4 separate regions of the Homo sapiens genome follow, and all the other regions are linked to region 3. The links come from fine-mapping of genetic effects on gene expression. A gene starts in region 3. Each other region holds a variant in brackets. All regions are shown on one strand. Distances are from middle to middle. Region 1 overlaps STK10 (serine/threonine kinase 10). Region 2 overlaps STK10 (serine/threonine kinase 10). Region 3 holds the start of STK10 (serine/threonine kinase 10). Region 4 overlaps STK10 (serine/threonine kinase 10).

What was found. PIP is the estimated chance that this variant, and not a neighbour inherited with it, causes the effect.
Region 1: its variant is fine-mapped to the expression of STK10 in whole blood (TOPMed, PIP above 0.99).
Region 2: its variant is fine-mapped to the expression of STK10 in whole blood (GTEx, PIP 0.92).
Region 4: its variant is fine-mapped to the expression of STK10 in monocytes after LPS (Quach 2016, PIP 0.95).

What each region holds. Positions count from the first base shown.
Region 1 is chr5:172,061,238-172,068,793 of GRCh38, reverse strand. STK10 (serine/threonine kinase 10) reads left to right here. Exons shown (of 19, transcript NM_005990.4): 13 at 3,982-4,074; 14 at 7,526-7,556. Among named protein-coding and RNA genes, the nearest start is that of FBXW11, 58 kb to the right of the region's middle. RefSeq lists an enhancer at 1,976-2,025. The variant C/T (reference allele first, on the strand shown) is at 4,101.
Region 2 is chr5:172,147,934-172,155,489 of GRCh38, reverse strand. All of the region lies in intron 2 of STK10 (serine/threonine kinase 10), which reads left to right. Among named protein-coding and RNA genes, the nearest start is that of STK10, 37 kb to the left of the region's middle. RefSeq lists a silencer at 3,743-3,918 and enhancers at 4,403-4,612, 4,623-4,682. The variant G/A (reference allele first, on the strand shown) is at 3,520.
Region 3 is chr5:172,185,381-172,192,936 of GRCh38, reverse strand. STK10 (serine/threonine kinase 10) reads left to right here and starts at 4,713. Exons shown (of 19, transcript NM_005990.4): 1 at 4,713-5,050. The coding sequence starts at 4,895. RefSeq lists enhancers at 3,953-4,728, 5,781-5,860, 6,521-6,570, 6,841-6,890 and silencers at 4,401-4,760, 5,061-5,110, 5,241-5,320.
Region 4 is chr5:172,130,062-172,137,617 of GRCh38, reverse strand. The region is part of intron 2 of STK10 (serine/threonine kinase 10); the gene reads left to right. Among named protein-coding and RNA genes, the nearest start is that of STK10, 54 kb to the left of the region's middle. The variant A/G (reference allele first, on the strand shown) is at 4,051.

The DNA.
Region 1 (7,556 bases), 120 kb after region 3:
CATGCCTAGAGACAGGGTTTCACCATGTTGGCCAGGCTGGTCTTGCCTGGCCTCAAGCAATCCGCCCACCTCAGCCTCCCAAAGTGCTGGCATTACAGGTGTGAGCCACCACACCTGGCCTATCACATGTATTATATCTACATATATTAAAAACCATACCAGACAATGTGACAACTTTTGCTTTAAATGGTCATTGAGATTTTAAAGATCTTAAGGGAAAAAGTGTTGATTATGTTTATCCAGATATTTACCATTTCTGTCACTCTTTCTTTTTTACTGAAGATACAAGTTTTCTTCTCAGCTCACTTCTTTTCAACCTGAAGAACTTCCAATGTAGCCTTTCTTCCTGACCACAAAGTTTCCTACTTTCCTTCATCTGAAAATGTCTTTATTTTACTTTCATTTCTGAAGGATAGTTTCACTAGACATACCTATCTCAGCACTTTTTTTTTTTGAGACAGAGTCTCGCTCTGTCGCCCAGACTGGAGTGCAGTGGTGTGATCTCGGCTCACTGCAACCTGTGCCTCCCGGGTTCAAGCAGTTCTCTGCTTCAGCCTCCTGAGTAGCTGGGATTACAGGCGCCTGTCACCATACCCAGCTAATTTTTTTGTATTTTTAGTAGAGACAGGGTTTCACCATCTTGGCCAGGCTTGTCTTGAATTCCTGACCTCGTGATCCACCCGCCTTAGCCTCCCCAAGTGCTGGGATTACAGGCGTGAGCCACCGCGCCCGGCCCTTCTTTCAGCACTTTAAGGATGATACTCCGGTGGCTTTTGGCCTCCCTAGTGTCTGTTGGGGAATCCATGGTCACTGGAGTCATTATTTTCCTGTGTTAATATGTCACATTTCTCTTAACTACTCTCCTGAATTTTTTTAGTGTTTGGTTTTCAAGTTTTATTATGATATGTATGAGGGTGGTTTTCTTTTAATTTAACCTGTTTGGGTTTCATTGAGCTTTTGATAATTTTCCCATAAGTTCCTGAAACCTTCCTCTTTTTCATCTTTTTTTCTCTCTATCATTCATATTATATAATCTTTATTAATCAGTCTTCAAATGAATGACCCTCCTCTGTGATCACCATTCCACTATTGTTTTATTTTAATTTCAGACATTGTATTGTTTAGTTTTAAATTTTCTAATTTTTTAAAAAATAGTTTTTCTGGGCTGTGAACTTTCATCTTTCCATACTTGAAATATTAAAGGGCTTTACCTCATGGAGTACAGTTATAATAGCTGCTTTAAAGTTTCTTTCTGCCAGTCCCAACATCTGTGTCATCCCGGAGCTGACATCTATTGATTGCCTTTTTCTTTGAAAATTGGTTCTATTTCCTGATTCTTTGTATGTAGAGTAATTTTTTATTGTTTCCTTGGCATTTTATTCTATTTATTTATTTATTTATTTATTTATTTATTTATTTATTCTATTTATTTATTTAGAGACAGGGTCTTGCTCTGTTGCCCAGGATGGAGTGCAGTGGTGCAGTCACAGCTCACTGCAGCCTCAACCTCCTGGGCTAAAGTGATCCTCCCACTTCAGCCTCCTGAGTAGCTGAGACTACAGGTGCACTGGCACCACACCCAGCTAGTTTTTTGTATTAATATTTTCTGTAGAGACGGGTTTTTGCCATGTTGCCCAGGTTGGTCTCGAACTCCTGAGCTCAGGTGATCCACCCAGCCTCCCAAAGTGCTGGGATTACAGGTGTGAGCCACCGTGCCTGGCTATCCCTGACATTTCAGTGTTATGTTCTGTAGACTGTGGGTCCGTATTATAATCTTTTGAAGAATGTAGATGTTTTTTGTTTAACAGGAAACCCTGCAGACCACAGGTTCTGTCTGATCTTCTGTGGGTAGTGGTTTCAGTGTTAGTTTAGTTGGGTCTTTGCTTTTTTTGTTTTTTGCTATACTGCTTGGCACCTGTCTCACTCATACTCAGCTCAGGGGTGAATCTCTGTGTTCACACACACAGTTAGGAATTTCCCTTTTCCTGCGCTCTTCTCTTTGTTTTTGAGACGGAGTCTCGCTCTGTCCCTCAGGCTGGAAGTTCAATGGTATGATCTCGGCTCACTGCAACCTACGCCGCCTGAGTTCAAGTGATTCTCATGCCTCCTTCCCAAGGAGCTGGGATAACTGGCATGTGCCACCACACCCGGCTGATTTTTGTATTTTTAGTAGAGACAGGGTTTCACCATGTTGCCCAAGGCTGGTCTTGAACTCCTGACCTCAAGTGATCCACCTTTCTCGGCCTCCCAAAGTGCTGGGATTACAGGCGTGAGCCACTCCGCCTGGCCTTCTGTGCCCTTCTCTTTGGGATTCATCCCATACTCACTGGACTGCACAGGCCTCTTTTCCTGGTTCTCTGGCCAGAAACACAAGGTTTCTTACAGAGTTTTAGCCAGCTTTTCTACTGCACTACTGGGCAGGTCTGGAATTGGTGCAAAGCCAGGAGAGCAAAAGGGTGAAAAAAAAAATAGGAAACTTATCCCCTGTACCAGTCTTGTCTGCAAGTTTTGACTCCCCTTCGTGCCACCTGCTTTTGTTTGGTTTTCAGAGTCCTCAAGTAGCTGCTTTCATATTTGATGCAGAGTTTTCACTGTAATTATCAGGAGACACAGCCTGTCTTGGCTTACCTCACCATGCCAGAACTCCCTGGAATGCTCTCTTTTTGATCACAGGCGGGCCTTTCCCCCCATCAGATGCTCTTAAGAGCCCTCTGTCAATGCAGGTTTTGGGTTATTAGGCACCTGTGAAGGTGTGGGTTTCTTGGGAAGGAACTGTCTGAGGAACTCTAAGGTCCTTAGAGAGAAGTGTCATGGATCTCTTCTCCCTCCTGTTATAAAAGACAGAAACCCAATCCCAGCTGGCTTAAGAAGGAAAGAACACTTGCTGGCGTCTGACCAGGAGGGCAGGAGTGTTGCCAGGGATTCTTCTTCTCATCTCTGGACATTGCTTCCCTGTGCTGAGTTCATCTCAGGCAGTCCCCTCCAGGGGCTGACAAGGTGACTCACCTTGGCCTTCATCCCTCCAGTTTAACAACCCCAGAGGACAGCAGGTAGCTTTTCTTCAGTAGTTCCAGCAAACGTCCCAAAGCTCACACTGGACCAGTGAGGGTCACGTGCTTATCTCTGAATCAGTTCCTGAGGCTAAGGGCATGGAATATGCTGCTTGGCCAGCCTGGATCAGATGCTCAGCCCAGGGCCAGCGGGGGTAGGGATGTCAGTTCACCTGGACCTCAGGGGCTGACAAGGGGGATACTAAAGTATGCATTCTCGGCCAGGCGCGGTGGCACATGCCTGTAATCCCTGCACTTTGGGAGGCCCAGGCAGGCAGATCACTTGAGGTCAGGAGTTTGAGACCAGCCTGGCCAACATGGTGAAACCCCATCTCTACTAAAAATACAAAAATTAGCCAGGTGTGGTGGTGCACACTTGTAATGCCAGCTACTTGGAAGGCTTAGGCAGGAGAATTGCTTGATTCCATCTCAAAAAAAAAAAAAAAAAAAAGTGCATTTTCAGCCCGGCTAGTGTTACCCTAAAGGAAGCAAAATAACTGAAATATGACAATGGTTTGTCAGATTGACGATATTGTCTGTTGGACTAGTATTTCATGGGGGGAGAGGGATTAGGGAAAAATGTCTAAAAGAACTTCTGTAGGGACTGTAATTTTTTAAAAAGGTTGAGAAACACTTCCCTGCAGGAAACTGAGGTGCTGTTACCAGAAGAGGGGGGTGGATACCAAGCTGCTGAAAACAGCACCTGCCCACTCTGGGGGAGTTGGAAGCTGAAACCAGCGGCAGGCAGGAGTAGGCCAGTGTGGAGCACCTGCTCAGAGGGGCTTGGTGGGGAGCCGCGTAGGGTGCTGGCCGCTGCAAAGCTGAGCCTCTTCTTTGGTTTCTCTGGCCCGGGGGTTCTGCGTTGAAGATTATACTGTAGGAAGCATGGAGAGGACCCTGACCCAGCTACTCTCTGCTGTCTCTGCTGCAGGTGAAGAACGAGGTGGAGAAGCTCCCCCGACAGCAGCGGAAGGAAAGCATGAAGCAGAAGATGGAGGAGCACACGCAGAAAAAGCAGCTTCTTGTGAGTCCCTGGCCTCAGCTGGGGAG[C/T]GCAGGGGCTGGTGCGAGACCTGGAATGGTGACCAGGCCCCCTCTCTGCCTTTGCCCAATCCCTGCCCCTCAAATACCCCGTTCTGAATACCTAAATCTGGCCTCATCCTTCATGGCCCCATTATCCCCTCCTCCATGCAGCCTTCCTCGATTGCCCTGCCTCCATCTGGAAGTAAGCTCTTCCATCTCTGGATACCCCAACACTTTACATTGACCACCTCCCAAACCCTTAGCACCTCCTACCTTGTTTTAGGGTTATTTATTTGTAAGTCACATCTCCTTGACCAACCCAGTATATTCCCCTGCCCACTTGGCATCTTTTAAGTCTGAAGGACATCAAACTTGTGATGTCCCAGACCTGGTCCTGTTATGCTCTGAGGGGGTGCCATTTTCCTTCCTTTCTGGCCCATCATTCCTGACGCCTCCTTTCCCTCCAGTCCTTCGTCACCTCCAGAAGCATGGTATGTATATTTCTTATCTCCTGTCTCTGGATCTATGAACTCGTCACCATCTCCATGATCCCCCAGCCACTGTCCAGTGGCCTCCCAGCGAGGCTTCCTGTAGCTGTTTTTCCCCTGCAGTTTCTTCTCTCCTGCCTGCGTGTGATCAATGTGAATTCCAAGTCTGATAATAGCACCCTTCCCCCCACAGCCCTGTGCCTTAAAACCCTTCAGTGGCTCCCACATTGTCCCTAAGATAAGCGCCGCCTCTTTGCTGTGCCCTGGCCGGCCTCCCCAGCCTTCTTTTCATCCTTTGCCGGAATGCTCCTATTTTCCCCCACGAGGGGGTCTTTGTGTGTTCTGCTTCCTCAGCCCCCAAAGCAAAGAATTTTTGAGTCCATATTTAGAAATGCTTTGTATATTACCTGCTTCAGCATTCATAGCTTACTATGGTAGGAGCTGTTCATTTTCCCATTCGCAGAAGAGGAAACAAAGGCTGAGAGAGGTAACATTGCTGAGTTCACATTCAGGGAGGGGGTCGAGGCCTCAAGCTTGTGTTCTCTCCGGGACACCCTATGACCTGTCTGTCCCATTACAGCACGATTAGGAAGAGAACGCAGGACTGGTGAGGGCGGGGCACACAGGCCCTCATCCACGCAGAGGGACAGCAGATTGGCCTGGAGGAGGCAGTTGCATGGAGAGCTTTGAAGATGTACACATCCTTTGGCTTGGATTTTCTGCTTCTAGAAATCCTGAGGGAATCTGAAAATCCTGAAGGAGTTATCACAGAGGTTCACAAATACTTAGCTACCAGAATATGAAGTAGCGCTATTTAAAATAGATAAAACCTAGAGACACCCTGTTGTTTATTGGATAAATAACATCCATAGCATGAAATATTTTCAGCCATTCAAACACATGTGATAGAAGATCACATTATTTATTTATCTGAGACGGAGTTTCAAAACTGGGAGTTTCATCCCAGTTTTTTTTTTTTCTTTTTTGAGATGGAGTCTCACTCTGTTGCCCAGGCTGGAGTGCGGTGGCACGATCTCAGCTCACTGCAACCTCTGCCTCCTGGGTTCAAGCAATTCTCCTGCCTCAGCCTCCCAAGTAGCTGGGACTACAGGTGCCTGCCATCACGCCTAGCTAATTTTTGTATTTTTAATAGAGTTAGGGTTTCACCATGTTGGCCAGGCTGGTCTCGAACTCCTGACCTCAGGTGATCCGCCTGCCTCAGTCTCCCAACGTGCTGGGATTACAGGCATGAGCCACTGCACCTGGCCAGAAGATCACATTATAACATGGAAAGATTTCTTAAAATAATTTTTTAAAATTGTGGTAAAATAGTCATAACATAAAGTTTACCATCTTTACCATTATTAAGTGTACAGTGTAGTGGCGTTAAGCCTATTCACATTGTGCGGCCATCTCCGCCATCTATCTCCAGAACTCTCTTGTCTTGTAAAACTGAAACTCTGCACCCATCAAACCGTAATTCTCCATTTCTTCTCCTCCAACCCTTGGTAACTTTATTCTGCTTTCCCTATGAATTTGACTACTCTAGGTACCTCATGTAAGTGGAATCATAGAATATTTGTCCTTTTGTGACTGGCTTATTTCACTTAGCGTAATGTCCTCAAGGTTCATCCATGTTGTTGCATGTGTCAGAATTTCCTTCCTTTTTAAGGCTGAATAATATTCCATTGTGTGGATATAACACATGATTTATCCATTTATCTATCGACGGACACGTGGGCTGTTTTCATCCCTTGACTGTTGTGAATAATGCTGCTGTGAACTTGGGTGCACACATATCTCTTTGAGCCCTTTTTAATAATTTTTGTAACACAGCAATAACAATAGCTATAGATACACTTGTATAGACATACCTACCGCAGCTGCCAACTCTGGGGGATAAGATGAGTGGAGAGTTTTACTAATTCCGTGGTTTCTAAATTTTTTTATTTTAATTTTTTTTACCCTTTATTATGGAAAATTAAAAACACAGGAATAGGGAGGCCGAGGCGGGTGGATCACTTGAGGCCAGGAGTTGAAGACCAGCCTGGCCAACATGGTGAAACCCCGTCTCTACTAAAAATACAAAAGTTAGCCAGGTGTGGTGGTGTGCACCTGTAGTCCCAGCTACTCAGGAAGCTGAGATGGGAGAATCACTTGAACCTGGGAGGCTGAGGTTGCAGCGAGCTGAGATCACGCCATTGCACTCCAGCCTGGGTGACAGAGCGAGACTCTCTCTCAAAAAAAAAAAAAGAAAAAAGAAAAGTAACATGGGAATAGGTATAATGAACTACCATATACCTGTCACCTAATCTCAGTAATATCACCTCATGTCCACTCATTCACTCCCTGACCCCAAGGTATTCTTTTTAATCAAATCCCAGACATCATATTATTTTACCTGTCAAACATCACAGAAATAACTACCATACCATAAACACACCTAGCAAATTCAACAATAATTGCTGAACAACGTCATGTTGTCAGTATTCCAGTTTCCAATCACTCCTGTAATCCCAGCACTTTGGGAGGACGAGGCAGGCAGATCACAAGGTCAGGAGTTTGAGACCAGCCTGACCAACATGGTGAAACCCCGTCTCTACTAAAAATACAAAAATTAGTCAGGAGTGGTGGTGCTCACCTATAATCCCAGCTACTCAGGAGGCTGAGGCAGGAGAATCACTTGAACGCGGGAGGCAGAGGTTGCAGTGAGCCGAGATCATGCCACTGCACTCCAGCTCTGGTGACAGACCGAGACTGTTCTTTGATCCAGGATCCAGATGAAGCCCACATGTTGAAATTGGTTGATGCGTCTCTAAGTCTCCCTTAAATTTCTCCTCCACCAATTTCTTTTCTGTTCCTGCATTTTCTTCTCTGATCACGCGGGCTTTTCTCCCATAATAGGAAGAGACATGGAGGTGCCCAAGCCGGCTCTGGATAAAGGCCTGTCCTCCTCTCTCCCCACAGGACCGGGACTTTGTAGCCAAGCAGAAGGAGG
Region 2 (7,556 bases), 37 kb after region 3:
GTCTCACTCTGTTTTCCAGGCTGGAGTGCAGTGGCACGATCTCGGCTGACTGCAACCTCCGCCTCCTGGGTTCAAGCAATTCTCCTGCCTCAGCCTCCTAAGCAGCTGGGATTACAGGTGCATGCCACCACGCCTGGCTGCTTTTTATATTTTTAGTAGAGACGGGGTTTCACCGTCTTGGTCAGGCTCTTCTTGAACTCCTGACCTCAGGAGATCCACCTGCCTCGGCTGCCCAAAATGCTGGGATTACAGGCGTGAGGCACTGTGCCCAGCGAGAATTTTTAAGAGTCTTTAATGTCTATTGCCAAACTGGCCTCACAGAGCCACTTTTGATATTAACCAAAGGAGATCTCCCATTGACCCACCCACCCACCCAGCCACCCACTTTCTGTCCATTCATCTTCCTCTCTGTGCATACAGCATTTGTTGGCCTGCTGACTATGTACCCATTAAGAAAAATAGCTATTATGTTTCTATTCCTGTTATTGATTGTGGCTGGGTACCAAGTTCATAACTTTCCCAGGTCCAAAGATACTACTTATAGTAGCTAGCATTTATTGAGAGTTTACTGTGTGCTTGGCCTTTTGCTATGAGTTTCACTTGCATTATGTGGTTTAATCTTCATTCTGTGAGGTTGTTGCTTTATCCCATCTTACAAAAGAAAATGAGAAACAAAAAAGCTATGTGAGCTGCTCCCCAGGCCACACAGCTAGCAAGTGGCAGAGCTGGAAAACCAGGTAGAGCCAAACACAGTTTGTAACTAGACTGCGACTGTCATGCTGTTGTTTAAATAAATACGCTAGACTTTTCCGTCCCTAAATTGTCACTTTAGGCTGGTGCTTTCTCCTCCAGGCCCACTGCTGTGGCCAAGACCATTTCTTTCCCTCCTCTATTGTAGCTGCCCTGACAGCCTACATTTGTTACTTTGTAGAAGGCCCCAGCTCCTCCGATTTGCCTTTTAGACACTATGAGATCAAGGAAGGTGGCCCTGGAGCTGGGTAGATAAAGAGGGGGAAAGGATGGCAGGCAGGAGAGACAGCGTGGGCAGCGGTGTGGAGGCATGAAAGGTACAGCCTGTTTGGGAGGTGGCTAGTCTAGGGCCAGGGCAGCATGTGGTGAAAGATGAGGGTGGTAAAGTAATTGGGGGCCATGTTGTAGAAGGCCCTGCATGCCAAGGTGAAGACTTATCCCTCCATCTTTTACTGCAGTGGTTCTCAAAGTACAACCCTTGGATCAGCACACCCTGGATCTTTGTTAGACATGCAGGTTATCAGGCCCCTCCTGAGGCCCATTGAGTCAGTAACTGAGGTGAGGCCCAGCAATTGGCGTTTTAAGGTAGGGCCCAGCAATCTAAGTGACTCTGATGCTCGTTTAAGCTTGAGAATCACTGTTTTAGGTAATGGAGACCCAGTGGTACTTTTTTGCAGGGGAGAGGCATATTCTGTGTTACAGAAAGAAGTCAGGTTTGAGAGGACAAGAGAAAAACGTGGAGGCAGTTTGAGAAGTGGTAAGAATAGACTAGGCCAGAAGCCCAAGGATGTGATGTGGAACATCATCTGGTCAGGGGAGGCTTCAGAGGAAGGGACATTTGAACGGGGTCTTGCAGAATGCATAGGAGTCCTCTGGGGAGATAAGAGAAGGAAGAACAGTCAAAGTAGAGGGACCAGCAAATGGGCAAAAGTGTAGAAGGGAGAAGTCCAGAGATACAGGTTGAAGGATGCACCAACCCTTTGATATTTCCTTCTGTGTGATGGTTCTCAGGCGCATCTTGTGACCAGGCCTGGGCCCCTGTGGCTTTAGGAGCCCACTTTTCCATGTGGATATCTTTGACAAAACCAGTTCTGGACCTGGGGTCTGCTCTCAGGGACTTTGGGATGAGAAACTGGCTGTTCCCCAAGTGTCTTAGGTCCCTTCTGTAGCCATGGCAGACAGGGACAGACTTTCCCCCGAGTGGGGTGGAGGTCATTCACCACACCACCCCATGTGCAATTTGACAAGATTAGCTCATTTTTGTTCAGAATTTGTAATCATGGCAAAATCCGTCTGTGCTTCCTTATCACTACTTCTGCTTTTGAATATCAAATGGTGCAAGTTGGAGAAAAACAAGCCAAAATGCTCTAGACCAGTAGAACTATAATGTGAGCCACATGCATCATTTTACATTTCTTTCTTTCTTTCTTTCTTTCTTTCTTTCTTTCTTTTTGAGATGGAGTTTTGCTCCTGTTGCCCAGGCTGGAGTGCAATGGCGCGATTTCAGCTCACCACAACCTCTATCTCCTGTGTTCAAGAGATTCTCTTGCCTCAGCCTCCTGAGTAGCTGGGATTACAGGCATGCACCACTACCCCTGGCTAATTTTGTATTTTTAGTAGAGATGGGGTTTCTCCATGTTGGTCAGGCTGGTCTTGAACTCCCGACCTCAGGTGATCTGCCTGCCTCAGCCTCCCAAAGTGCTGGGATTACAGGCATGAGTCACTGCACCAGGCCTATATGTATAATTTTACATTTCTAACAGCCACATCCAAAAGAGCAAAAAGAAACAGATGAAATTAGTTTCCATAATATAATTTATTTAACCCAGTGTATAAAAATATGATCATTTTGACATGTGATCCATTGAAAGAGTTATTGAGCTATTTTACTTTTTTTCATTCTAAGTCTTCAAGTCCAGTGTATATTTTACACTTTTAACACATCTAAATTTGGGAGCTAAATTTTCATCAGAAGTCCTTGATCTGTGTTTAGATGTCATAAAATTTACAGTTGAGAAAGGTAGATTCACACACCCAAGTTGTTCCAACATTCTTAAACGTTTCCCAGTAACTGAACCAAGTCTCAGTTTTCAAATTTAAATGAATTAGAAGAGAATGGAATAATACATTTAGGTCTCTACCGTCGCCACATTTCGAACACTCAGTAGCACATGTGTTAGTGTCTCCCATATTGGACGGCATAGACAGTGAAGCTCTAGATGACTCCCAGGGCCCAAAATGAGTGACTGCAAGAAGGCCTGGGCTGACCTCGTGAATGTCCTCTGCTAATAGCTACCCCCATCCTCCACCCCCAGCCCTGAGCCAGATTTTGGTCTCTGGGCAAATCTTTCAATGGCCGGGGGATCTCTTTTCCAACATGTATTACAGGAGCAAGAGTGAGTTCTTTGGGAAGAAAAGCTCTGGTGTCTGGCATTTGGCCCATTTCTGAATGCACATATGTCCACCTGATCAGTTTCAAGCTACCAACTCGATGTCATTAACAGAGTTGGGAAGGCCTCTGGCCTCACGGAGCTCAAAGTCTAGTGGCAGAAACAGACGGTATGAAGGCCAGTGAAGAAGTAGATGAGAGGACTTGGGCAAGTGACAAGTGAGTGGAAGAAAAATCAGTGGGGAAATGCAGTAGGCATTCCTGGGTAGGGTCAGGAGCAGGTGCTGTAAACACGATGGACAGAGAAAGCCTCTCTCATGAGGTGACATTTTAGCTGAGAGCCAAAAGACCAGATGGAGGCAGACCTCCAAATGTGTGGG[G/A]GCAGAAAGTGCCAGGTAGAGGGAATCAGAAGTGCACAGGCCCTGAGGCAGGAGTCTGCAGAGGACCCCACAGAAGGTGTTGCGGCTGGCGCGTGGTGGAGGGAGAGCGGCAGAGTAACGTGAACCGAGGCTAGACTGTCTGCAGCACATGCTGCTGAGCAGCTACTAAGTGGAAGGCCCCATGGTGGGGGCTGGGGATTCATCAGTGAGCAAGAGGGAAACGGTCCTCATCCTCATGGAGCCTCCAGTCTACATGTGGGAGACAACTAACAGCGCATGAACACATAACTCCAGCAGTGATCAGGATGGATATAAAATTGTGAAGTGGGCCGGGCGCAGTGGCTCACGCCTGTAATCTCAGCACTTTGGGAGGCCGAGGTGGGTGGATCACGAATCAGGCGTTTGAGACCAGCCTGGCCAATATGGTGAAACCCCGTCTCTACTAAAAATACAAAAGTTAGCCGGGCGTGGTGGCGTGTGCCTGTAATCCCAGCTACTCAGGAGGGTGAGGCAGGAGAATTACTTGAACCCGGGAGGTGGAGGTTGCAATGAGCCAAAGATTGTGCCATTGCACTCCAGCCTGGGTGACAAGAGTGAGACTCTGACTCAATTAAAAAAAAAAAAGAAAAAGAAAAAAAAGAAAAACGCAAAGGTCGGCCTCTGAAGCCTGCAGGTTCGCAATCCGTCTCCTGCCTGCCACTTACTGTGAGACCAGAGCCAATTCCTTCTGTCCTTGTGCCTCAGTTTTCTCAACTGTAGAATGGGGATCTTCACAGTAGTGCCTGTAGGAATAATTGAGCTAATAGTTGTTTACAAATAGAAAAGGTCTATAACAGGGCTGGGCACACAGAAACTTCGGTAAGTATCAGCTGTCACCTTCATCGTGCCTCTCCTTCACTTTCTGTTCTCTTTGGTCCCCGGCACGGGGCCTGGTGTGAAATCTGTCCATGGTAGATATGCACTGGGGAGATGAAAGGAGACAGGACGTGCCTGCCCTTGGTGGGGCAGGGGTCTGTCGCGAGCAGCCAAAGTCCCTTTGGGGTGGCCCAGCCCAAGAACGCTCCCTAAGACTTCCTGATGAGGAAGTTGGCTGGCGCCGTGGTTACCCTCCCTGAAGGAGTGACTGTGGGCCTTTCTCAGTGTGGCTTCTTGCCTCAAACTGAGCATTCTGTAAAGAGGAAGTACTGGTCCCAGGATCAAGAGCAGGGCATGGATGGGATGAGCCTGCTGTCCACATGTGTCCCCATATGACCACACGTTGCTGGCCAGGGTTTTTGTGGCTTGTAGTCCTGGGCTCAGAGGCCAGCCCTTGGTCATTGACAGAGATTGCATATCTGACCTCAAAACAGCCAAAACTGTAAAGAGAATGTGACACCCGGAAGTAGCTGACAGTGCTGTGTACTTTAGAAAGTTGTTCAGTGTGGCAGAAGGGATCTGGGGCTGGAATCAGGAGACCTGAGTTCTTCTTTCTTTCTTTTTTTTTTTTTTTGAGGTGTTGTTTCGCTCTTGTTGCCCAGGCTGGAGTGCAGTGGCGTGATCTCGGCTCACTGCAACCTCTGCCTCCCAGGTTCAAGCGATTCTCCTGCCTCAGCTTCCCGACTAGCTGGGATTACAGGCATGCACCACCACACCCGGCTAATTTTTGTATTTTTAGTAGAGACGGGGTTTCGCCATGTTGGCCAGACTGTTCTTGAACTCCTGACCTCAGGTGATCCAACCTCCTCAGCCTCCCAAAGTGCTGGGATTACAGGCGTGAGCCACCATGCCCAGCCTAGGAGACCTGAGTTCTGCCTGGGACCAACTGGCTGTGTGACCCGAGATGAGCTTCCTTTCCTGGGCCTCTGTTTCCTAATCCATAACTCTAGGGGCTTGGAAGGGAGGATCCCAAGGAGGTCTTTCTTTCTTTTTTTTTTTTTTTTTTTTGAGACAAAGTTTTGTTCTTGTTGCCCAGGCTGGACTGCAATGGCGCGATCTCGGCTCCCTGCAACCTCTGCCTCCTGGGTTCAAGCGATTCTCCTGCCTCAGCCTCCCGAGTAGCTGGGATTACAGGTGTCTGCCACCACACCCAGCTAATTTTTTGTATATTTAGTAGAGACGAGGTTTCACCATGTTGACCAGGCTGGTCTTGAACTTCTGACCTCAGGTGATCCACCCGCCTCGGCCTCCCAAAGTGTTGGGATTACAGGCATGAGCCACCGCGCCCGGCCCAAGGAGGTCTTTCAACGGAGTCTGCCCATTTTATCCTGGCCCTTGTATCTCTGCAGTTCTGAAGTCTGGATCTGTGGTCACCTGGCCTGGGGCAGCCCTTTTTGGCAGTTTTGGGTGCCAGAACCCTTTCCATTTGCCGTGGGGACCTGGTCTTCCTCGGGCTCCCTGGCACTCACCAACCCCTGCCCTCTCTCTGGATTGGGGCACCCGGTTGTTGGGACACACACACACACACACACAGACACACACACACACACACACACACACGAGCACTTTGTAAAGCACTTTAAAGTCTGCACAGGCTTTGCAGCCCTGGAGGTGGGTGTATTATTACTGTATCGACATGCCCATTTTACAGAGGGGACAGACACCCTAAGGCTCAGGGAGGGAAAGTGGGGGAGGAGGCTGGCAGCTCCTTGGCCTAGAGGGTGAATCAGGAGGCAGGGGGTGGTAACAAAAGGAAGGAGGCAGCAACATGATGATGTGGATAGTTGGCCTCGTCAGGAATGTTTTCTGTGCTAGGCCTGTGCCGGGTGGGCTGTTTCCTGACTATCTCACCAAATCCTCACAGTTCTGTGGGATTGAGTTTTGTTTGTTTGCTTTTGTATTGCTCTGTCACCCAGGCTGGAGTGGAGTGGCATGATCTCAACTCACTGCAACCTCTGCCTCCCAGGCTCAAGCAATCCTCCCTCCTTAGCCTCCCAAGTAGCTGGGATTACAAGCATGTGCCACCACACCCAGACAATTTTTGTATTTTTTGTAGAGACAGGGCTGGTCTCCAACTACTGGACTCAAGCGATTTGCCTCCCTCCGCCTCCCAAAGTGCTGGGATTATAGGCGTGAGCCACCACGCCTGGCTCGAGATTGAGATGTTGTCACCCCCATTTTACAGATGTGAAGACCAAGGGTTAGAACGGTGGAGTGGAGAGGCTCGTCCCACATGTCAGAGCCAGGCTCCAGCCCAGGTCTGCCTAGCTCCAAAGCCTTCTCTCCTGCCCCCTGGAATGCCCCTCTCTGGGTGCCAGGCTCTGGGCATCACTGGGAACAGTTCAAAGGATGTAATCTGTGACCCCCACCCTTCCACTTGAGGGGCCATCGTCCGGCAGAATGTTTTTTGGCAGGGCTTGGTGGTGAGGAGGCCTGTGCCGGGGGACCTGTCCAGCTGCTCCCTTGGGCAGTGACCCGGGTGCGGTTGGTGGCCCAGAGCAGATGGAGCTGTGAAGCAGCAGGTGGATAACTGAGGGCTTTGCTGGGATCCCGCTGTTGGAATAGCCGGCCTGGGCTGTCTATCTCACATGCAGAGGAGCAAGGGTGATTGTCATTCCAGGATTCGCCCACCATGTCACCAAGCACGTCCATGTAGCCCTTCCTGTCAGGTCAGTGCACCATCTGACCTTGTCCTTCCCCTGCATTAGTACTCTCCGGGCACCTCCCAGCCCTGCTTCCCTCTGCCCCCCACCCTGTCACTCACACCCTCATTCCTTCAGTTGATCATGCACAGAGTGGGATTGGAATCTGCCTGCACCCTGTCCTGCTGTGTGACCCCAGACACGCCTCTTCGTGCCTCTGAGCTCCAGGCTTCTCATCTGGACGTCGGGGATGATAGTGCTGATCACCACAGTGTGTCCAGGGTTGGAAACCCAGCTGGCAGACAGTAGCAGTGTAGGAGGGTCCCAGACCTGCTCGTGGCTTTCATGGTATGACTCCAAGCCAGGCATCTTAACTAGCAGGACAGGCGTGTTGCTCATAGTCCACATCAGCCAACAGATGTGTGAACCACGCCCACAGGCTACGCAGATGGCAGGTGTGATACGATCACATGTATATTG
Region 3 (7,556 bases):
TTACAGGCGTGAGCCACTGCACCCAGCCCAATTTTTGTATTTTTAGTAGAGATGAGGTTTAACCATGTTGGCCAGGGTGGTCTTGATGCCTGCCCTCAAGTGATCCACCCGCCTTGGCCTCACAAAGTGCTGGGAGTACGGGTATGAGCCACTGTGCCCTGACATTAATTTTTTTTTTCTTTTTTCTTTTTTTTTTTTTTGAGACAGGATCTCACTCTGTCTCCTAGGCTGGAGTGCAGTGGTATGGTCATACCTCACTGCAGCCTTGAATCCCAGGCTCAAGCTATCCTCCCACCTCCACCTCCTCATAGCTGGGACTATGCCCATGTGCTACCACGTTGTATTTTTTGTAGAGATAGGATCTTGCTACATTGCCAAGGCTGGTCTTGAACTCCTGGCCTCAAGCTATCCTCCCACCACAGCCTTCCAAAGTGTTGGGATTACAGGTGTGAGCCATGGTGCCCAGCCCCTCCTCTGTCTTAATTTTCTACTCCCTACTCACTCCCAAATAAACCACTTACACTCAAATCCTTGCCTCAGGGTCAGTCTCTAAGGGAATCCAACCTAAGAATACTATAAAATGCTTTTTCTGTGACTATTAAGACTATGTGATTTTTCTCCTTTACTCTGCCAATGCAGTGCTATTACAGTAGATTTTCTGATGTAGAACCATTCTTTTATTCCTGGATAAACCTTTTGTGGTTACGATATTTTTATTCACCTCTGGTTTGATCTTGCTAGCATTTGTATTTTCCCTGTCTTTTTAAGAACTGAAATTAGGCCGGGCGTGATGGCTCACACATGTAATCCCAGTACTTTGGGAGGCTGAGGCGGGCGGATCACGAGGTCAAGAGATTGAGACCATCCTGGCCAACATGGTGAAACCTCATCTCCACTAAAAATACAAAAATTAGCCGGGCGTGGTGGCACGTTCCTGTAGTCCCAGCTACTTGGGAGGCTGAAGCGGGAGAATCGCTTGAATCTGGGAGGTGGAGGTTGCAGTGAGGTGAGATCACACCATTGCACTCCAGCCTGGCGACACAGCAAGACTCTCTCTGTCAAAAAAAAAAAAAAAAAAAAATGAAATGAAATTAGTCTACAATTTTCTTTCTCTCTCTCTCTTTCCTCTCCTTCCCTTCCTTTTTAAGACAGGGTCTCACTGGAGACCAGGCTGGTGCAGCGGTGAGATCACTGTTCACTGCAGCCTCGGCCTCCTGGGCTCAAGGAATCCTCCTGCCTCAACCTCCTGAGTAGCTGGGACCACTGGTGTGCACCACCACGCCTGGCTAATTTTTTGACTTTTTGTAGAAACAGGGTCTCACTTTATAGCTCTGGCTGGTATGGAACTCCTGGGCTCAAGTGATCCTCCCACCTCAGCCTCCCAAAGTGCTGGAATTACAGGTGTAAGCCACTGTGCCTGGCTTACAATTTTCTTTTACTGTCCTTATCTAGTAATAGTAAAACTCATCTTATAAAATAAATTGGCAGATTTCCTTCATTTTCTATCTTTTAAAATAATTTATATAAAGAAAGAAATTATTTGTAAAACCACACAGACTGATGTCTTTCACCAAGAACAAGCTTTTGATTCTTGATTTTTGTGGTTGTTGTTTTTTGGGTTTTTGTTTGTTTGTTTTTGTTTAGAGACAGAGTCTCACTGTGTTGCCCAGGCTCGAGTGCAGTGGTGTGATCTCGGCTCACTGCAACCTCCGTCTCCTAGGTTGAAGGGATTCTTGTGCCTGAGTCTCATGAGTAGTTGGGACCACAGGCACGCACCACCACACCCGACTAATTTTTGTATTTTTAGTAGAGACAGAGTTTCACCATGTTGCCCAGGCTGGTCTCGAACTCCTGACCTCAGGTGATTCACCCGCCTCAGCCTCCCAACGTGCTGGGATTACAGGCATGAGCCACTGTGCCCGGCCTGATTCTTGATTTGATTTCTTTATTGGTTACTAGTTTATTTAGGTTTTTATTTCTTATTGAAATTATCTTTTACCTATCATTTATATTTTCTTCTCAATAATTACCCATTTTATGTAAATTAAAACATTTATTCACATAAATTTGTCTAAAATATCACTTTATGATTATCAAAATTTCTACAGTATCTAATCTGATGTTCTCTTTTCATTTTTTATTTCTTCCAGTGAATATTTCTTTCTTGCACCAATTTTTTTTTTTTCTTTTCTTTTTTTTTTTGAGACGGAGTCTTGCTCTGTTGCTCAGGCTAGATGGAGTGCAATGGTACGATCTCGGCTCACTGCAACCTCCATCTTCTGGGTTCAAGTGATTCTTCTGCCTCAGCCTCCCAAGTAGCTTGGGTTACAGGCGTGCACCACCCCGCCCGGCTAAGTTTTGTATTTTTCGTAGAGCTGGGGTTTTGCCATGTTGGCCAGGCTGGTCTTGAACTCCTAACCTCAGGTGATCCACCCAGCTTGGCCTCCCAAAATGCTGGGATTACAGGTGTGAGCCACCGTGCCCGACCCTTTTTTTCTTTTTCTTTGACTAGTCTTGTCTATTAGTTATTTCAAAGAAGTAGCTTTGATTCTATTGAACCTCAATGTATTTCTTACAATGCTATTGAGGTATAATTTACACATAAAATTCATCCATTTACAAAAATGAAAGTTTAAAATTCAATTATTTTTGGCAAATTTACCAAATTATGAAATTGTCACCATTGTGCAGTTTTAGGACATTTTCATCACCCCAATTAGACTGTTTATTGTTCATGTACAGTTAATTCCCATTTCACACCCAGCTCCAGGCAACCATTAATCTACTTTCTGTCTGTATGGATTTGCCTTTTCCAGACATTTCATATAAATGGAAATTTATAGAACACAGGGCCTTTTGTGTCTGGCTTCTTTGACTTAGTGTTATTGAATGAATGAACCTCTCCGTTTTTCTTTCCCTTCCTTCCTCCCTCCCTCCCTTCCTTCCTTCCCTCCCTCCCTCCCTCTTTCTCTCTCCTTCTCTTCCTTTCCTTTTTCTTTCTCTCTTTCTTCCTTTCCTTTCCCTTTCTCTTTCTTTCTTTCTCTCTTTCTCTCTTTCCTTTCTCTCTTTCTTCCTTTCCTTTCCCTTTCTCTTTCTTTCTTTCTCTCTTTCTCTCTTTCCTTTCTCTCTCTCTTTCTCTCGCTTGCTTGCTTTTCTGGAGCTCTCAGAGCTGGTCAGAGCCCTCCAGGCCTACAGCTTTCGTGGAGTCAGAGCCTTCATCTCCTAGTATGGAAGCAACCCTCTTGGTCTCCCCACCCGCTTCGTACAGTTGGCCAAATGGTCTGAAACAAATGAAAGACCTGCCTTTCAGCATGTTTTGGGAGGTTCAGACAGCGCCTGACTCAATGAGAACGGTCAGCGACGAGCGGCGTTTCCTTCTTTTAAAGACCCTCTACAATTCCAGGCACTCCTGCAGCTGTGGAAACATTCCGAACGGCTTAGCAACCAGGACACCCTCTGCGCCGACCACTACCAGCATCGCAGGCTTCTTGAGCTGGCTTTCCCAGTGGAAAACCATGCTTGGTGTTTGCACACTGTTCAAAGGATGTTTTCGAACAAAGCACCGAGGAAGGGGCGAAAACACCTCAACACAGCCGTTCTCTGGGGTTGGAGCTATTGAACTGTGACATTTGCGAAGACTCAACTTGTTTATGACACGGTCCAAATAATAACCCTTGCAGACTGCCCGCCCCCCCCCCCCACCCCCAGCACTCTCCTTAGATTCAGGTAAAAGCATGTTATAACCGTCTATAGGACAAACAGGCAACAGTAGCAGTGAAGTGACTCAAGTAGCCAGGATCGAGAATGAAGGTGCTCAAAGAAGACTTTAGTTTGATCTGTATGTAGTGCGCTCATCTTTTTTGAAACTAGGAAATTAAAAATTAGAATAAAGTTTTTATTTAATATGCAAATACATCCGCAAACCCATCAGGAAACATAAGAGAAATCAGTGCCAAAGGAGCTCTTTCTCCCAGCCCTCTAATCCTGGCAGGTTTGTGGATCGTGGACGGGGAGCCCCTGGAAAGGACCGCGCCGGGAAGCCGGGCCCTGCAGGGACTGGCCGCGGCTGCACCGGCGTTGCCCGTCGCACACTAGGAGGCAGCACCGCGCCGAGGAACCCGCAGCAGACGGGCAGCCAGCGTGTGTGCCTGGGGCGAGTGCCCTCGCCTGCCGGCGTCCCCATCGGAAAAGTGGGGGCGAGGGCAGCCTAGCGGAATAGCTGCGGGAGGATTAAATGAACGAGTGCAGGTTCACCTTCTGGGCGCTGACAACGATCCGTGGGCTCTCGCGAAATGCCAAGTCGCCGTCCCGCTTGCTCCCATAAAAGTTTTGGGAGCCACGCGGCGCGGCGGGCGGGCTCCTGAGTCCATGAGCGGTCCCACCGAGCGGTCCCCGAAGCTTCCCCAAAGCCCAGCCCGCGGCTCGCGGAGCGTGGTGTGGGGGGACTACAGTTTCCAGAGTGCCCTGCGGCGACGGGCGGAGCCGGGGAGCGCCCGCAGCCAATTAGGGGGTCCCGGGGCTCTGCCGGGGAGCGGCGGGTGGAGCCGGGCCGGTGGGCGGGCGCGGGGACGGTCCCCTGGAACGGGTCCGAGGCTCTCGCAGGCAGGGCTGGGCCGGGCAGGAGCTGCGAGGCCGGCACAAGGGAGGCGGCCCTGGGGACCTGACAGGGCGGGGGCGGGGGCGGGCACGCCGCCGCCTGCGCGGTTCCGGGTGCTCCCGGCGCGGCGCTGCCCAGGGCACACTTGACCGAGGTCGGGCTGCGGGGAAAGGCGGGTCTGGGGAGAACCCCGAGAGACGCGGCGTCCTCCAACTCCTCCTCCTTCTCCTCGCGGCCGCCGAAGCCACAGCCCGAGCCCGAGCCCGAGCCCGAGCCGGCGCCACCGCGCCCCCGGCCATGGCTTTTGCCAATTTCCGCCGCATCCTGCGCCTGTCTACCTTCGAGAAGAGAAAGTCCCGCGAATATGAGCACGTCCGCCGCGACCTGGACCCCAACGAGGTGTGGGAGATCGTGGGCGAGCTGGGCGACGGCGCCTTCGGCAAGGTTTACAAGGTGAGGGCGCTGAGGTGGGTGGCCGGACGCGCGTCGAGGGGCTCCGGAAGGAAGGGATGCCTGAGCCGGACCCGGCCAGCCTGGCTCCGGCTCCGAGGGCTGCCCGGCGCTGAATTCGGGGTCCCTGGCCCTCATCCCGATGACTCTTGTTTTTTGGGGGGAACATCACTCGGCCCGGCCGAGTCCCTGCGCTCTGGGCGCCCCCTCCGGGCACGGTTGCCGCCCCCACCCTAGCCCTGTTTCGGAGCACTTCCTGTGTGTCCTGCACTGCGCTCGGCGCCGCACGGGGAGACAAAGGGGCGTTGACAGGACCTCAGCATCCGAGAGGGCCACTCGAGGGACCTTCCAGGGACGTTCCGTAAAACGGCGATACGGGCACACTTTTTTTTTTAAGAGAGACCACAGATGCTGTGGGAATATCGAGGCGATGTGGACCGAGAAACTCGGCTGCGCTTGGACGGGTTGGGAGCTAGGGACACATCTGAAGATGAGCCAGAGACAGGGAAGTGGGGTGGGCGAGGGGTGGCCCATGGACTGAGAGGTGGGGCTTGGAAAGGTGGGTTGGGGCTGGTCAGAGGGGGAGGTCAGGATCTGGTGAATGCTGAGCCTGGGGGAACAGATTTGATTCCGTCGGTCTGAGTCACAGCTGGGGAGTCTCCCAGCCTGCAGTCACCTCTCCCCTAGAGGAAGACGCGGCAGAGAGCTTTTGTGGAGTGGGTGGGGCAGAGCTGATTGAGTCTAGAGAAGTGTGGCAGCAGGACGTTGGTTTCTGCTCCTGGGAGCTAATTCTGAGGTGGTGAGTTGTTTTAGGGAGCCAACACCTACAGCTTGACTCCCCCCTTTCCCCTAAGAAAATTTTTACTGGGAGACGCCCACTTGTTAAATTGGTGTATACCTCCAGGAGAGCACCTCTCTTCTAAGCCACTATCCTCCTCCTTGGGGCTCCTGTAGCTTGTAGGGCACTCTGACCCTAGGATTGCCGTTCTATGAGGCTGGACCACAGAGAAGGCTTCTCCAGGCCTTCTCCTCTGACTTGGAAGTGGTCTATCGCCTAGTTACCGAAGTAGTTCCTAGATGACCGGTGTTATAATAGCATCATTTGGGAGCTTGTCAGAAGTGAACAATCTCATGCCCAGCCCCGACCTGCTGAATTAGAGTCTACGTTTTAATAAGATCCCAGGTGATTCCTAAGCAAATAGGTTTGAGAAGTACTGCCCTAGAGGCTTGGAGTGGTGGCGTTTTTTCTTTTTTCTTTTCTTTTTTTTGAGACAGGGTTTCCCTCTGTTGCTCAGTCTGGAGTGCAGTGGCCCGATCTCGGCTCACTGCAACCTCTGCCTCCTGGGCTCAAGCAATTCTCCTGCCTCAGCCTTCGGAGTAGCTAGGTCTACAGGTGCACACCACAGCCCGGCTAATTTTTGTATTTTTTGTAGACTTGGGGTTTCGCCACGTAGCCCAGGCTTGTCATGAACTCCTGAGCTCATGAAATCAGCTCGTTTCAGCCTCCCAAAGTGTTGGGATTACAGCGGTGAGCCACCCTGCCTGACCTGGAGCGGTGGCAATTTTGAGACCAACCAGGCCCACTCAGTGTCTTTTTTTATTTTTATTTTTTGTGAGACGGAGTCTCACTCTATTGCCCAAGCTGGAGTGCGGTGGTTTGATCTCGGCCCTCACTGCAACCTCCACTTCCTGGGTTCAAGCAATTCTCCTACCTCAGCCTCCCAAGTAGCTGGGATTGCAGGCACACACCACCATGCCTGGCTAATTTTTGTTTTTTTAGTAGAGACGGGGTTTCACCATGTTGTCTAAGCTGGTCTCGAACTCCTGACCTCAGTTGATCCACCCACCTCGGCCTCCCAAAGTGTTGGGATTACAGGCGTGAGCCACTGTGCCTGGCCTGGTGCCTGTTTTGTTTCCTTGCCACCTCCCCTCTGAGCCCACACTTCCTGTTATGGGGTAGGGAGAGGTCTTGTGATCCGAGAGGCAGTGCTTTTGGACTGCCCCGACTTGCTGTCCTCCTTTGCCTGAGGGCCTTGCCCATATTTGAGGGCAGCCAGCTCACCCTGTCCTCAGCACGTCTTTTCTTTACTCTCCTCAGAGCTGCATCTTCTTCCTGGTGGCACCAGAGAACGATCCTCAGCCTTGCAACTGTCTCTGGACACTGCCAGTGTCCTTGACTGCCTTAGACAGAGCCTGCTCCTGCAGCTGTGCTCTGACTACTGTGAGGGCAGCTGGACCCCTGTGGTCAGCTCACCACAGGACCCACTTTCTCCAGAAGGTTCAGTTGGTGTTTTTAGCGTATGCTAAACATATGGGTTTTTTGGGCCGGGCGTGGTGGCTCACGCCTGTAATCCTAGCACTTTGGGAGGCTGAAGCAGGCAGATCATGAGGTCAGGAAATTCAGACCATACTGGCCAACATGGTGAAACCCTGTCTCTACTAAAAATACAGAAATTAGCCGGGCATGGTGATGCATGCCCGTAATCCCAGCGTCTCAGGAGGCTGAGGC
Region 4 (7,556 bases), 55 kb after region 3:
TGAGCCACTGCGCCTGGCCCAATATATGGCATTTTAATATATGACCTTTATATATGTTGAGGTTGTTTTCTTCTATTTTGTTTGTTGAGTATTTCTCATGAAGTGGTGTTTAACTGTGCCAAATGCTTTTTCTGCTTTAACTGAGATGATCACGTAGTTTTTTTTTATCTCCTTTCATCGTGTTAATGTGGTATATTACATTGATAGATTTTTGAATGTTGAACCATCCTTACATTCCAGGAATAAATCCCACTTGATCATGGTGTAATCTCTCTTTTAATAGTTGAATATGATTCGCAAGTATTTTGTTGAGTATCTTTGCATCAGTATGTCAGAGGCATTCAAACCAGAGTGACTTTATCTTGAATAGGGGCTGGGTAAAATGAGGCTGAGACCTGCTGGGCCACATTCTCAAGAGGTTAGGTATTCTTAGCCCTAAGACGTTTATAGTTAAGGGAACAGAAACAGACCCAGGATATAACAGACCCAGGAACTGTCCTGATGTCCTTATATCTTAAGAACAAAAACATTCCTAGTTTTAAAATAAGTCTCACTTTAAAGATAATAATATATGCACAGTGAGAACACGTGGACACTGGGAGGGGAACATCACACACCGGGGCCTGTTCGGGGGTGGGGGGCTAGGGGAGGGATAGCATTAGGAGAAATATTTAATGTAGATGATGGGTTGATGGGTGCAGCAAACCATCATGGCATGTGTATACCTATGTAACTAACCTACATGTTCTGCACGTGTATCCCAGAACTTAAAGTATAAAAAAAAAAAATAGATAATAATAAAGGCTCTCATGAAAGACAGTAGTTACACAAAGATTAGCAATCCTTTATCACAAACCCTTGTAGTAGAGCACATCTCCTCCATGATTTTTGTTATATATAAGCAAGCATTGTACCTAGGTGGGCACATTCCTCCTCTTATTTTTTGGAATGCCATGCTCTGCCTATGGAATAGCTATTCTTTCACTTCTTTACTTTATTTATTTATTTATTTATTTATTTTGAGACGGAGTCTCGCTCTGTCGCCCAGGCTGGAGTGCAGTGGCGCGATCTTGGCTCACTGCAAGCTCTGCCTCCTGGGTTCACACCATTCTCCTGCCTCAGCCTCCCGAGTAGCTGGGACTACAGGTGCCTGCCACCACACCTGGCTAAGTTTTTGTATTTTTAATAGAGATGGGGTTTCACCATGTTGGGCAGGCTGGTCTCGAACTCCTGACCTCACGTGTCCACCCGCCTCGGCCTTCCAAAGTGCTGGGATGACAGGCGTGAGCCACTGCGCCCAGCCTGTGTGGAGGTTTTAAATTACTGTTCAGTCTCCTTAGAAGTTACATCTATTCAGGTCTTCTGTTTCTTCATGATCCAGGCTTGCCAGGTTGTGTTTCTAGGAATTTTTCTATTTCATCTAGTTTATTCAATTTGTTGTCATACAGTTGTTCATAGTACTCTCTGATAGTCCTTTCTGTCAAATCAGTAGTAATGTGTCCCCTTTTTCATTTCTGATTGTAGTAATTTGAGGTTTTTTTTTCTTTTTTTCTTTTTCTTTCTTTTGTTTGTTTGTTTATTTATTTATTTTGAGACAGAGTCTCACTCTGTTGCCTAGGCTGGAGTGCAGTGGTGTGATCTCGGCTCACTGCAACCTCCACCTCCTGGGTTCAAGCGATTCTCATACCTCAGCCACCCAAGTAGCTGGGATTACAGGCGTGTGCCACCAAGCCTGGCAAATTTTTGTATTTTTAGTAGAGACAGGGTTTCTCTATGTTGGCCAGGCTGGTCTTGAATGCCTGACCTCAGGTGATCCACCCCAAAGCACTGGGATTATAGGCGTGAGCCAACGTGCCTGGCCATAATTTGAGTTTTTAACTTAGTCTGTTTAGCTAATGAACATATTTTAAAAATTCTTTTGGATCTATATGTAGGAGGGAATTGCCATTTGGATCAATAGTAATGCTACGTTTAACATATTGAGGAACTGCCGGACTCTCCCAAAGTGCCTGGACTGCACATTTTACATTACCACCATCAGTGTATGAAGGTTCCAATTTCTCCATATTCCTGCCAACACTTACTGTTGTTTATCTTTTGTTTTTTGAGATGGAGTCTCGCTCTGTCTCCCAGGCTGGAGTGCAGTGACGTGATCTTGGCTCACTGCAACCTCCGCCTCCCAGGTTCAAATGATTCTTTTGTCTCAGCCTCCTAAGTAACTGGGACTACAGGCGTGTGCCACCACACCTGGCTAACTTTTGTATTTTTATTAGAGACAGGGTTTCACTATGTCGGCCAGGCTGTCTCAAACTCCTGACCTCAGGTGATCCACCCACCTCAGCCTCCCAAAGTGCTGGGATCACAGACGTGAGCCACCGTGCCCAGCCTTGTTCATGTTTTTAATTCTGAGCATTCTAGCATGTGTGAAGTGGTATCTCATTTTGGTTTTGATTAGTGTTGCCCTAATGACTAGTAATGTTGAGCATCTTTTCATATGCTTAGTGGCCATTTGTACATCTTCTTTGGAAAAACATCTATTCAAATCTTTTGCCTATTTTAAGATTGGGTTATTTGCTCTTTTATTTTTGAGTGCTATGAGTTCTTTATGTATTCTGGATACTAGTCCTTTATCAGATATATGATTTGCAAATATTTTCCATTTGTGGGTTACTTTTTCTTTTTCTTTTTTTTTTTGAGATAAAGTCTTGTTCTTTCTCCCAGGCTGGCGTGCAGTGTCACAATTATTGCACGCTGCATTCTCGACCTCCCAAGCTCAAATGATCCTTCCACCTCAGCCCCCCAAGTATCTGGGACCACAGGTGTGTGCCACCATACCCCGCTAATGAAAATTTTTTTCCTTTTTTTTTTTTTTGTAAATATGAGGTCTCCCTATGTTGCCCAGGCTGGTCTCAAACTCCTGGGCTCAAGTGATCCTCCCATCTCAGCCTCCCAGAATGCTGAGATTACAGGCGTGAGCCATTGTACCCAGCCTTTACTTTCTTGATACTGTCCTTTGATGCACAAATATGTTCAATGTTGATGAAGTCCAGGGTATCTATTTTTTCTTTGGTTGCTTGTGCTTTTGGTGTCATTTTTGTCCATCTGGTCTTTTACTAACCCCCATATACCCTTTGACACATATTTAGAGGTCCTCAAAATTTTTATTTAAAGATGGGAGGATATGGAAATATTTTTTTAAAAAACTCATTGAAACAGACTGCAGTACGGTCTTTAATAATGAAGATCCCCAAAGCTTCTGTGTGAATACTCAGGGCTTCTCAAACCATCTCTTGGTAAAGGCTGATGAGGATGATCATACATCCTACCAAAGCCCCTCACTCTTTGGTTTGAGGCAAGATAAAAAGGAACACTGGTGATGAAATTTAGGATAACAAGGAGCATAAAAGAGGCAGTACTTCTGCCAGTTTGCCCCCAAGTTTCTCTACCAACATCTTACAGTGCCTTTTGTTAAGGGGAGGACAGATGTGGTCCCAGGGTCCAGGCCTCTTGCTCTTATAAATTCCCATTGAGCAGTAGTTCTCAAAGTGTGACCAGGGGTCCAGCAACAGCAGCAGCATCTGAGCACTTGTTGGAAACCAGATTCTTGGACCTTGCTTCAGACCCACTGAATCAGAAGCTCTGGAGTGGGACCCAGTGATCTGTTTTAACAAGCACTCTGCTGAACGTTCAAGTTGGAGAGCCGTTGGTGTAGCATTTTCAGCTGGTACAACCTGGAGTCTGCCACCTGGAGAGTGTGGTTACTCATCATCTCCTGCCAAGCGTGGGATCAGGTACTTTTGGTAACAAGTGACAGCAAACCTTAAACTAACCTACTAAACAGCGCAGAAATTAATTCGTTTGCATATTCTGCCTAAAAAGTCAGTAGGGAGCAGGCTTGTTCTCCGTTTTCCTGTGATTCTCTCTGTCTTCCTCTGTGTATTAGCTTTGTCTTCACACCCACTTCTCTCGTGGTTGCAACATGGTTTCCTGCAACCATCAGAGTTGTGTGCTTCCTAATTAGCTCCAGAGTGAGACGACGTGGCATTCCAC[A/G]CCATCAAGCACAACTCACCAGCTTAGCTCTGATGACACCAGCCCTGAGTCAGGGCACGAGGCAGAAAATTTTCCTGACTGGCTTAGCACCCTGCTTCTACCCCTCCCTTGCAGGGGATGAGTAAGTCCTACCCAGTTCTCATGGCTATTTCACAAAGGGGAAGGAAGACATGGTGTATGTGGAGGGGGAGGTAGCCATGGTGCCCAGGACATCAGGACTCATGAAATGGCCTCTTCGCTGTTTGTCCCCAACCCACTGTTTTTTCCTTAATAATGCATCTAGAGGGATCTTTCCAAAGCAAAAGCCTGTCTACAACACCTCTTGCTTAAACCCTTTGGTGTATCTCCCCAGACACACACGCACACACGCACACACAGCTCTCCAGATTAGGTTCATACTTTGAGATGTTCAAGTTCTAGTTCTAATTGACCTCCAGCCTGCTGGATTCCCATCCTTTGGAACCCCATGGAATGCTCCGCCATTACCCGCTTCCACGCTTTTCCCTGCTGCCCCACCTCTGCTTCTGTGTTCTGCCAGGAGTGCCTTTACCCTTCCCCACGTGGTAAATTCACCCTTCAAAACTCAGCCTGGATATCTGCTTCCTCTGGGATAGCTCTAAGGCAGGTTAATGACCGTGTCCACAGGCTTCTGGGTTACATAGTCACCGTGTGCCTGCACCACTCATTTCTATATCTCCCTCAGCTGGTGATTTTGGGGCAGGGACCTGTTTGATTCTCCCTGGGTCCTCAGTCCCCAGGCTTGCCACGCACTAGGAGCTCAGATAGTGTTTGTTGATCACATACTACTTTTGTGTCCCCTACTGTTGCCTAGCAAAGTAGGGCCCCTGGTAGACACTCAGTTTATAATGATCAATGCATTAAACTGACCACAAATCTCAGTTCTTCAGGTCCTAGGAAAACCGTGAGCCACCTGCAAATATAGGCTGCTTATGCCCTTGACAGGTTCAGGGAATCCGTCCTTTTAGCACTGGGGCGGTTTCACTTTGGACTTGATCAGGGCTTAGAGGCCTTTAGCTTTCCGATCCTGAGGAGCCTCCCTTTATCCAGGAAGCAGGGGACTGGACCACTGGGACCTTCATCACGGGTGGGCACGGATTCCCCATCCCAATCAGAAGAATAGCTGTATCTGTAGCAGTAGGTTATTCTAGGCCAGTTCTTTCCATTAAAAAAAAACTAAAGCCCCTAGGTTGAATTAAAAAAATTAAAAAAATTAAAAATTTAAAAGTCATGTTTATTTCTAATATACAATTTGATAATACATATTTATTGAATATAATACATAAAAGTACAAACTACCTGTAATCCTCCTATGGGTTTTGTGCTTCCAGTCTTTTTTCTAAGCATGCATATGTAGTAATTTCCTAAAGCATTGAGATTATTATTTTATTCATATTTATTACCATCGTCTCAGTGCATTTTATGCTGCTATAACAGAATACCTGACACTGGGTAATTTGTAAACAATAGAAATTTATCTAGCTCATGGCTCTGGAGGCTGGGAAGTCCAAGGTTGAGGGCCCTGCATCTGGCGAGGGCCTTCTTGCCATCGTGGAAGGTGGAAAGAGCAAGAGGGCATGCAGGAGAGAGCCAGCAACTGAACTCACAGCCTCTAGCCCTTTTATAATCAGCACTAATTCATTCATGAGGGTGGAGCCCTCATGGTCTAAACACCTCCCATTACTGTTGGTCCCACCTCCCAACACTGTTACATTGGGGATTAAGTTTCCAACACATGCCTTTTGGGAGATACATTCAACTATTATTTTATCTGTTACTGTTGAGACTATTGTTTTATTAATTAAACCCCATGTATTTCTGCAAAAAGCCCTGACAAGTTTATAATACCAATCCCCTGTAGCCCTCCTGCCACTGATAAGCTGAAGGTAAAAATGTTAAGACCCAGATACTAAAAAAAGCAAGTAAGGCCTGGGAGTCAAACCAAAGCTGAGGAACTTAACCCAGAGCTTCCCAGCAGCCAAGGCAAAAAAATAAATAAATAAAAGGGAAGCTCAAGGGGTTGTGGAGCTCTTGAACTAAAGAAGAGGAAGCAAGCCAGGTTGTCAGAATGCACGAGCTTTCCTGGTGCTGACCTCTGGAGAGGGCACAGGGACGTTGTATAAGAGTGTTGTGTAAGGGACAGTTTCACTGAAAGATGCAGGAACTGCCTGGGTTTGGTCACTTCTCATACTGACTCTTAAGAATAGCTGATGACAGGCCAGGCGCGGGGGCTCACGCCTGTAATCCCAGCACTTTGGGAGGCTGAGGCAGGCAGATCGCGAGGTCAGGAGATCGAGACCATCCTGGCTAACACGGTGAAACCCTGCCTCTACCAAAAAATACAAAAAATTAGCCGGATGTGGTGGCGGGCGCCTGTAGTCCCAGCTACTCGGGAGGCTGAGGCAGGAGAATGGCGTGAACCTGGGAGGCGGAGCTTGCAGTGAGCCAAGATCGCGCCACTGCACTCCAGCCTGGGCAACAGAGTGAGACTCTGTCAAAAAAAAAAAAAAAAAAAAACAGCTGATGGCATGTCCATAACTTTTAGTTCTCAAAAATAAATAAATACATAAAGAAATTGTAGTTCTGGGAAGACATTTCTTTGTTTTGTTTTGTTTTCCCTAGGAATCAGACTGAGAGGAAGGCATATTTTTGTAGGAATCCTAAGTGACGTGATCTAAGCATGAAACTTACTGGTGATTTCATTTGGTAGAGATTTAACAAACACATATTAACTGTGTGGCTTTTGTGCTGTTCTTTCATGTAAGGAATCTCATTTAACTTTCTCAATGAAGTTGGAGGCAAGAGATGATTAGGCCATTTTACAGATGGGGAAATGGAGGCTCAGGGAGATTGACTTATCCAGGGTCATGTAGTCAATTAAGTGGCACACCAGGACTCGACCCCAGGTTTACAATCTTTTCCTCTGTGTTGGCACCTTGTTGGAGAAGCGGGAAGTGTCTGACCTTGTTACATATCCACGGTGTATTAGGACTGGGTTTTTCGGTTTTTTTTTTTTTTGGAGACAGAGTCTTGCTCTGTCACCCAGACTGGAATGCTGTGGTGTGATCTCCGCTCACTGCAGCCTCCGCCTCCTGGGTTCAAGTGATTCTCCTGCCTCCGCCTCCCAAGTAGCTGGGATTACAGGTGCCCGCCACCACACCTGGCTACTTTTTGTATTTTTAGTGGAGACGGGGTTTTGCCATTTTGGCCAGGCTGGTCTCGAACTCCTGACCTCAGGTGATCTGCCTGCCTCATCTTCCCAATATGCTGGGATTACAAGAGTGAGTCACTGCCCCCAGCCTAGGACTAGGTCTTTATAAGTACCACCTCATCTGTTCCTTACAGTAAATCCTAGAGCCACGTAATATTAGCCCATTTTACGGAGAGGATTGGCGGTTGTCCAAGGCCATACAGATGGTAGGTGTTAGGGAGGCTAACCAGGGGTTCCCAGCCAGGGTTTGGTGATGGAACTTCAGGATGTGGAAGGA